Linked DNA regions of Homo sapiens. The protein of the gene in region 1 purifies or fractionates together with the protein of each later gene. This does not show direct contact. Each region holds a gene or a part of one and is shown on either strand. Other genes may lie near its edges.

Evidence for each region.
Region 2: the proteins of CNN3 (region 1) and MTHFD1L fractionate together in Homo sapiens (co-fractionation; one large-scale study listed by BioGRID). This does not show direct contact.

Annotation. Positions count from the first base shown.
Region 1 is NC_000001.11:94,899,727-94,903,379, reverse strand, and holds part of CNN3 (calponin-3), read left to right. Parts: intron 1-191; coding exon 192-258; intron 259-1,121; coding exon 1,122-1,259; intron 1,260-1,594; coding exon 1,595-1,711; intron 1,712-3,653. UniProt on the Homo sapiens protein: Thin filament-associated protein that is implicated in the regulation and modulation of smooth muscle contraction. It is capable of binding to actin, calmodulin and tropomyosin. The interaction of calponin with actin inhibits the actomyosin Mg-ATPase activity.
Region 2 is NC_000006.12:151,008,584-151,012,409, forward strand, and holds part of MTHFD1L (monofunctional C1-tetrahydrofolate synthase, mitochondrial isoform 2 precursor), read left to right. Parts: intron 1-1,235; coding exon 1,236-1,375; intron 1,376-3,826. UniProt on the Homo sapiens protein: May provide the missing metabolic reaction required to link the mitochondria and the cytoplasm in the mammalian model of one-carbon folate metabolism complementing thus the enzymatic activities of MTHFD2.

The DNA.
Region 1 (3,653 bases):
TGTTTCTGCTCTTCCAGTTCTTTCCACAGCCTTCTCTCTCACTCTCCTTCTCAGCCCAGGGTGTCAGACCTTGATATTCTACAGATATCTTTAATGCTTTCCCTTACTGATGCTAAAGGGAGCAACTTGATATTTCAATCCTTGTTTTTGTGTGCCAGTAAATAAGATGTCTCTCATATTTTTCTTTTCAGACTTATAAACAAGCTACAGCCAGGCTCAGTGAAGAAGGTCAACGAGTCCTCACTGAACTGGCCTCAGGTAACAGCCAAACCAACCACCTCTGGTTCTAGTTGGTTGCATTTTATGTAGTGAAAACTTGATTTCAGGTTTGGTTTTTTGGTTTTGTGTTTTTTTTTTTTTTAACTTTTTGATTACGGTTTTTACATAGACATTGTAGCAGAAATTTGTGCATATTTAATTTTTTGCCCTTTTGTAATGGTTCTGTAATTACTTATTTAACTAGTTCTGTAATTATTACGTTTAGCTTAGAAGTTTTCCTATATTTAGTCTGTGTACATTCAGAAAGGACTTGACACAGCTTACACAGAGAAATGCAACCCAGACCTTAAGGATAAGGGAAAAAACAAGGCATTCCACATAACTAACAGTGGACTGCAGAGCACTGTATCAGACATAACCTTAGTTCATGAGTGTGTATGAGGAAGGAAAATGGGATACTTACTGGTCTTGAACATGTGTTTGGAGATATGAGAGAATGAGTATTTAGTAACCACAAATGTATTCTGAAATTAAAATAACACATAATGAATTATTTATTAGTATGAGTAATTATACACCTTTTGACAAATAAAATTCCAGGCCTGGATAGCTCTGATACAGAATCCTTTTAAAATATATAAGGAAGATCTTGCCCATAAAAACTGAAAACACGTAACTGCTTAAAAATATTAAGACTGTGATGTGACCCACAGTGAGAGACACACTCTCTTCTTGCTCTTTCCTGTTCCAGAGAGAGCCATGCTTAGTATGTATTTGGTTGAATCCTTGTCAAACAGCTTTCTGGGCAGCGTCTTATAACTGTTTATGAAGACTTGGAATTCTTAGAAATTATGAATGTCAATATTTAGCTCCAGAAATTATAAAACTCTTCTTCTTTATAGTTGGAGAATATTGGCAACTTTATTAAAGCTATTCAGGCTTATGGTATGAAGCCACATGACATATTCGAAGCAAATGATCTTTTTGAGAATGGAAACATGACCCAGGTTCAGACTACTCTGGTGGCTCTAGCAGGTCTGGTACGTACATGTCTTTAATGGCTGGTTAACAGATTCCCACCACATTGGTGATGAATTGCATCATTGCTTTTTCATGGGGGTTCAGACCAGGTGGGGCGGGGCCTGTCTCTTCTGTAATTAGTAGCTTTGTGGAAAGGCTGCTGACATCAGCTGCATCGTACTAGATAGCTTACTTAGAACACTCACATTTCAAATGATGCAGTATATTATTGAACAGCCTTAAATACTTTTTATCTCTAGTTTGGGCCCCTTTGTCTATGGACATATCATTTCTTTGTTGTTCCTTCTGTGAAACTCTGTTGGCCTTTTCAGTTAGTGTGCATGTTTCTGTCTAGGCTAAAACAAAAGGATTCCATACAACCATTGACATTGGAGTTAAGTATGCAGAAAAACAAACAAGACGTTTTGATGAAGGAAAATTAAAAGCTGGCCAAAGTGTAATTGGTCTGCAGGTAAGTAATGTGGTGTTGCTTATTCAATTACTTATTCAATATGATTAATTCTCACCATGCAAAATATTAAGCCTCTCCTAAGAATAGACAGAAGTACTATAGTACTGGGGGGGGGGTGTAGTTTATACAATTTATATCTATTTATAAAGCCCATAAGACAGTGATAATTTTTTAGAGGAAACCTCAGGTATGCCACCTGACTTGACAATTATTTCTCCAGGAAACGAAAATTTTTAATTGAATCATATTGTCTTTTTTTTTTTTTTAAAAAAGAAAAATACACTTTTAAATTTTTTATTTTATCTTTTTTTTTTTGAGACAGAGTCTCACTCTTTTGCCCAGGCTGGAGTGCAGTGACGCGATCTCGGCTCACTGTAACCTCCACCTCCTGGGTTCAAGCAATTCTCCTGCCTCAGCCTGCCAAGTAGCTGGGATTATGGGAATGAGCCACCATGCCCGGCTAAGTTTTGTAGTTTTAGTAGAGATAGGATTTCACCATGTTGGCCAGGCTGGTCTTGAACTCCTGACCTCAGGTGATCTGCCCACCTCGGCCTCCCAAAGTGCTTGGATTACAGGCGTGAACTACTGCACCTGGCCTGTTTTATCTTTTATATATAGATGGGATCTCACTTTGTTGCCCAGGATAGTCTCAAACTCTGGAGCTCAAGCAGTCCTCCTGCCTTGGCCTCCCGAAGTGCTGAGATTACAGGCATGAGCTACCACACCCAGCCAGAAATGTACTTTATAAATTCCTTAATGTTATTGACCAAATTAGGCAATTTTACACGACCTTAATGCCAAAGTCACTTATTTACAGTACCAAATCATGATATAGCAGCCAAGCCCTGTTAGAATTTGTCAGTTTAAATTCTTCTGAAATACGTAGTTCAGATGTTTTCCTTCTCTTCATTGTTCTCTTCACTGGTCATGGAAACGTCATTGCTAATTCCCCAAATGCTGTTGGCTTTACTCTCCAAAAGCCACTGTACCTGCTTGATACAGTGCCCCTTTCTACTGAGTCTATGCAAGTTAGATTTATTTTTACACAGTACAAAATTGTATTGGTGGTGAGAAACTGGAAACCTAAATTTCAGAACAGTAGTCAGTTGGTTGAATTACAACTCCATAAAAGCAAAGTGTAATGTAAAATTATACACTAGAGTTTGAAAAGATAGGTTATGGGGGAAAAAAATCAGATCATCAAATACTGTGGTCAGTATGGATTTTTAAAATTAAAAATGCACATGTTTTTGTATGTATTTGTATATATGTGCATCTATAGATATATACATAGACACATAGGTTAAAAAGCTAAAAGGATATTCACAAATGTTGACAGTGAATGGATGGTGGTATCACAATGATTTTTCCCCCCTCCTTTTTGCTTATATGTGTTTTCTGAATTTTCTTCAATGAACAGATTTTATATTAGTAATAAAGATTTTCTTTAATCTTATTTTTAAAGAAAAAAGATCCAACATCAGAAAAGTGTGCCTAACCAGTGGAACAGGGTGTAATGGTTGGTCCTGAAGCCATACTGTTCTCAGTGGGGAAGAAAAATTAATTATTGTTTCCCTGAACTTTGCTGAGTTCAAATTCCTCATTCCACCTTTCTCCAGCTCTGTCCAAGGACATGGGAGTTACAGGAATAAAATGTGGTTCCTTTCTGGAGAAAATGTTGGTGATTTTGAAACTTTAAAAAGCCCTTGTTAAGCTCCCAGAGAAAACACTTGGCATTTGCTTTCACATTTTATGTAAAACATTCCTGGAGTAGAACAGCATATTGCTTGGCCTAGGATTACTTCTGTTGAAATAACCGAAGCTGGTACCTCTTAATTTGGTTATCTGGGGAAAGAGTAGCAGAGGAAATTATTCTGCCACTGTAATGACTTTTGGTGTGTCAGTCCACCTGTTAAAGTGTGTTTAATTCTTCTATGTATGA
Region 2 (3,826 bases), on another chromosome or scaffold:
TTTGTGTATGAAGAAGATACTACTGACCCAGTGCCTCGCTATCTTGAAAGGCAGCTGTGACCTTTCTAGCAACTGAGGGGGTGGGGACTAGAAACGAGTGTTTTCTGGTGTTTCTCTAATAAAGCTGCTGTCTTGTATCCAGATTGACCATCAGTATCCTTATGCCCTTCAACTAACTTGAAATTTGTCAGTTAACAGAAATTACTGGGTGGCACTAAAATAAATTATTCTTAATATAAAGGGTAAGAAAGGGTCGGGTGTGGTGGCTCATGCCTGTAATCCCAGCACTTTGGGAGGCCAAGGTGGGCAGATCACCTGAGATCAGGACTTTGAGACCAGCCTGGCCAACATGGCAAAAACCCGTCTCTACTAACAATAAAAAAAAAAAATTAGCCGGGTGTGGTGGTGGGTTCCTGTAATCCCAGCTACTTGGGAAGCTGAGGCAGGAGAATCGCTTGAACCCGGGAGGCGGAGGTTGCAGTGAGCTGAGATTGTGCCATTGCACTCCAGCCTGGGGGACAAGAGCGAAACTCCATCTCAAAAAAAAAAAAAAAAAAAAGAGTAAGAAAGGATCTTCCATTGTAATCATACTATCATTGCCTTTTGAAACAATTTGGAACCTGATTACAAAGTTGAAAATCCCCATCTGTATGAAGAAAAGCTTCACTGGCTGGTCACCTTGGCTCAACGCCTGTAATCCCAGCACTTTGTGAGGCTGAGGCGGGTGGATCACAAGGTCAGGAGTTTGAGACCAGTCTGGCCAACATGGTGAAACCCCATCTCTACTAAAAATACAAAAATAAAAAATTAGCCAGGTGTGGTGGCAAACACCTGTAGCTACTCAGGAGGCTGAGTCAGGAGAATCGCTTGTGCCCGGGAGGCAGAGGTTGCAGTGAGCCGAGATCATGCCGCTGTACTCCAGCCTGTGCGACAGGGCAAGACACCATCTCCAAAAAAAAAAGCTTCACTGTGAGTTATGATATGGGAAGAAAAGTCTTGGCCTGGCCACCACAAGGAATCCCTCAGGCCTGGCGGTGGGAAGCAGAGGAGGGCGCAGTCTCTTTAGGGCAGAAAGTGAAGAACATTTCTATGACAATGGGGAAATCAGTTCACCTTTGTGTTGGTAAACAAAAGGAATGTAAGCTGTCCTTTGAGCTCGAATCATAGTGGTGATTGCCAAAACCTACCTTTGTTTTTAGAAGATAATAGCACATATTCCACTTGCTTCCCCACAGTGACCGAAGCTGGCTTTGGTGCTGACATCGGAATGGAGAAATTCTTCAACATCAAGTGCCGAGCTTCCGGCTTGGTGCCCAACGTGGTTGTGTTAGTGGCAACGGTGCGAGCTCTGAAGATGCATGGAGGCGGGCCAAGTGTAAGTGCCCACACCGCCTTCCTAATACCAAAGAAATTTCATTATGTTAAAACAGAATTGAGCATTTGAAAAATTCCTGCCCATTTAATGACTATAGTTTTCTAGAGTATTTTTCTTAAAACTTTTTTTTTCCTGTAGACCTCCCTCGTGGACATCTAAAACGTTTTTTGTTTTGTGTTGTTTTTTGTTTTTTCCCAACACCACCATAGGGCACTTTGAGTTTAGTAAGTTCGAGTAAACAGTAACACCCACAGTTCTTTCTAAACAATATTTTGGAAAGGAGCATAATGCAACCACTTTTTAGTCTCAAGCTTCACATCTGATACTCAGGCCAAGATTGTATAACCATATGGTAATGGGAGGTTAGAGGCTCTTGTCCCTGAACGAAGAACAAGAGGATTAGAGTGAGTTCTTTGATGACAGAGATTTTTCATTGTTTGTACAGATAGTTTTTCGGTTCACTGATGCTGCAACTCATCAGATTTCATCTAAAACTATTTTCCTTCTCTTTCTGTTTATTATGATTTCTCCTCACAACTCTGTTATAATACTGGATTGTTTCTAAGAGCTTTGCTTGGAAAACACAAATTCGATTTTAACTTCTTTAAAGACTTTTTATATTTACCTATCCTAATATATATAGAAATTACAGACATTATAAAGGAAATATATTCCTTTCCACAGAAAACCTGTGCATAGATTTTTGGGGGTTTTTTTGTTGTTGTTTGCTTGTTTGTTGTTTTTTTGTTTCATTTTTAGGAATTTCCAAGTGGAGAATAAGACATTTTATACTGATTAATCATTTTGAAATAAAATAAAATTTCTCTATCATAATATTCACATATGAGACGAACTGCCAAATCTGATTTCTTAATTGGTATACTGTACTGTGTATGTGACAAAAGTCATATATTCAATGATTATTGCATAGTCAAAACAAGTAGCAGGTTTGCCATCATGAAACGCTGTAAAGCAATTCTTTCTCCTGGGAGAGGTGGACATGATTTTTATACCATTTTACAGATAAGGAAGCTGAGTTTTGATAGGCTTAGGGAATATGGACAATGTCAGCAGGCCAGCAGAGAGCCGAGAACTTCAGATCTAAATCTCCTACTATGTCCACCATGCAGAGCTGGATGTTAATGAAGGGCAGAAGTTTTCTAAATCCAAATCCACTCCTAATACCCGACACTTAAGCACTTCATTTTTGCCTAAAGCTTCATCATCATTTCAAATGCAAGAATGATATAATACAGATTAAAAGTAGTAAATCATAAAGAATTCTGACTTCACTCAAAACACCCCTTGTTGCTACAGTCCTTCCTGGATTTTAGACATTGAATCTGTATAACAACTTCTATTTTTAAAAACTACTTCCGCCCATGTAGGATGCATTTGGAATTCTCCCTCCCTGCCCTGCCACCCTGAAAATTATAGAAAGGGCTTAGAGATTGTCTGATCTCATTCAGTCTTTATAAAGAGAAAATCTCTGAGGCACAGGGAGACGCAGTGACTTGAGTGGTGTCACACATCTATTTCAGGGACTGATCAGATCTACAGTCCTGGTCTCTTGACATCAGTCCCATAGTTTTCCAGACTCTGGTCTCTGTCCTGTAAAAATTCTCTACATGGTTTACAATCCTATTTCATTCATCTTAACATATGTGCTCTGTTATTCAGTGGTTGCACTTTCGTGCCACATTAATCCTTTGTGTCTCTTCCACTGCTGCTTAATGTCATGGTTCTCAGCCAGTGATCATGGTAACATGGAACAGGGTTAGTAGGCACAGATATGGGTGGAGGATAAGAAAAGGTGGGGACCAGCCAGGCGTGGTGGCTCATGCCTGTAATCCCAGCACTTTGGAGGCTGAGGCAGGTGGATCACCTGAGGAGTTCAAGACCAGTGGTGGCGGGCGCCTGTAATTCCCACTACTCAGGAGGCTGAGGCAAGAGAATCGCTTGAACTTGGGAGGCAGAGGTTGCAGTGATCTGAGATTGCACCATTGCACTCCAGCCTGGGTGACAAGAACAAAAGTCCATCTCAACAACAACAACAACAACAAAAAAAAAAAAAAAAAAAAAAAAAAAAAAAACCAGCAGGGACCAGGAAGCCCTGTGAAGCTAGGCATCCCTCTCCTGGGCTCCAGTAGTACCTTCTGCCTCACATTGTTTCATGAATGCCTTGTTCTGTGTCTCCCTATGTAATTCTCAATTCCTTGAGTTTAGGGACTGTGTCTTATTAATTGGTATGGTCCAAGTGTCTGGCATGGTCTATATGCAGGGAGTGTTTTCAATAATGGCAAGATAAATGAACTTTCATCCTCTTAATCCTCTATTCCATAGTGCTCATCTCGGTGTCCTTCCTTCATATTGAATAGCTCTGTATTTTTGAACCATGATTATTCATTTCTACTTCTGTTTTCTTTTTTCTTTTTTGCTACAAATACTGCG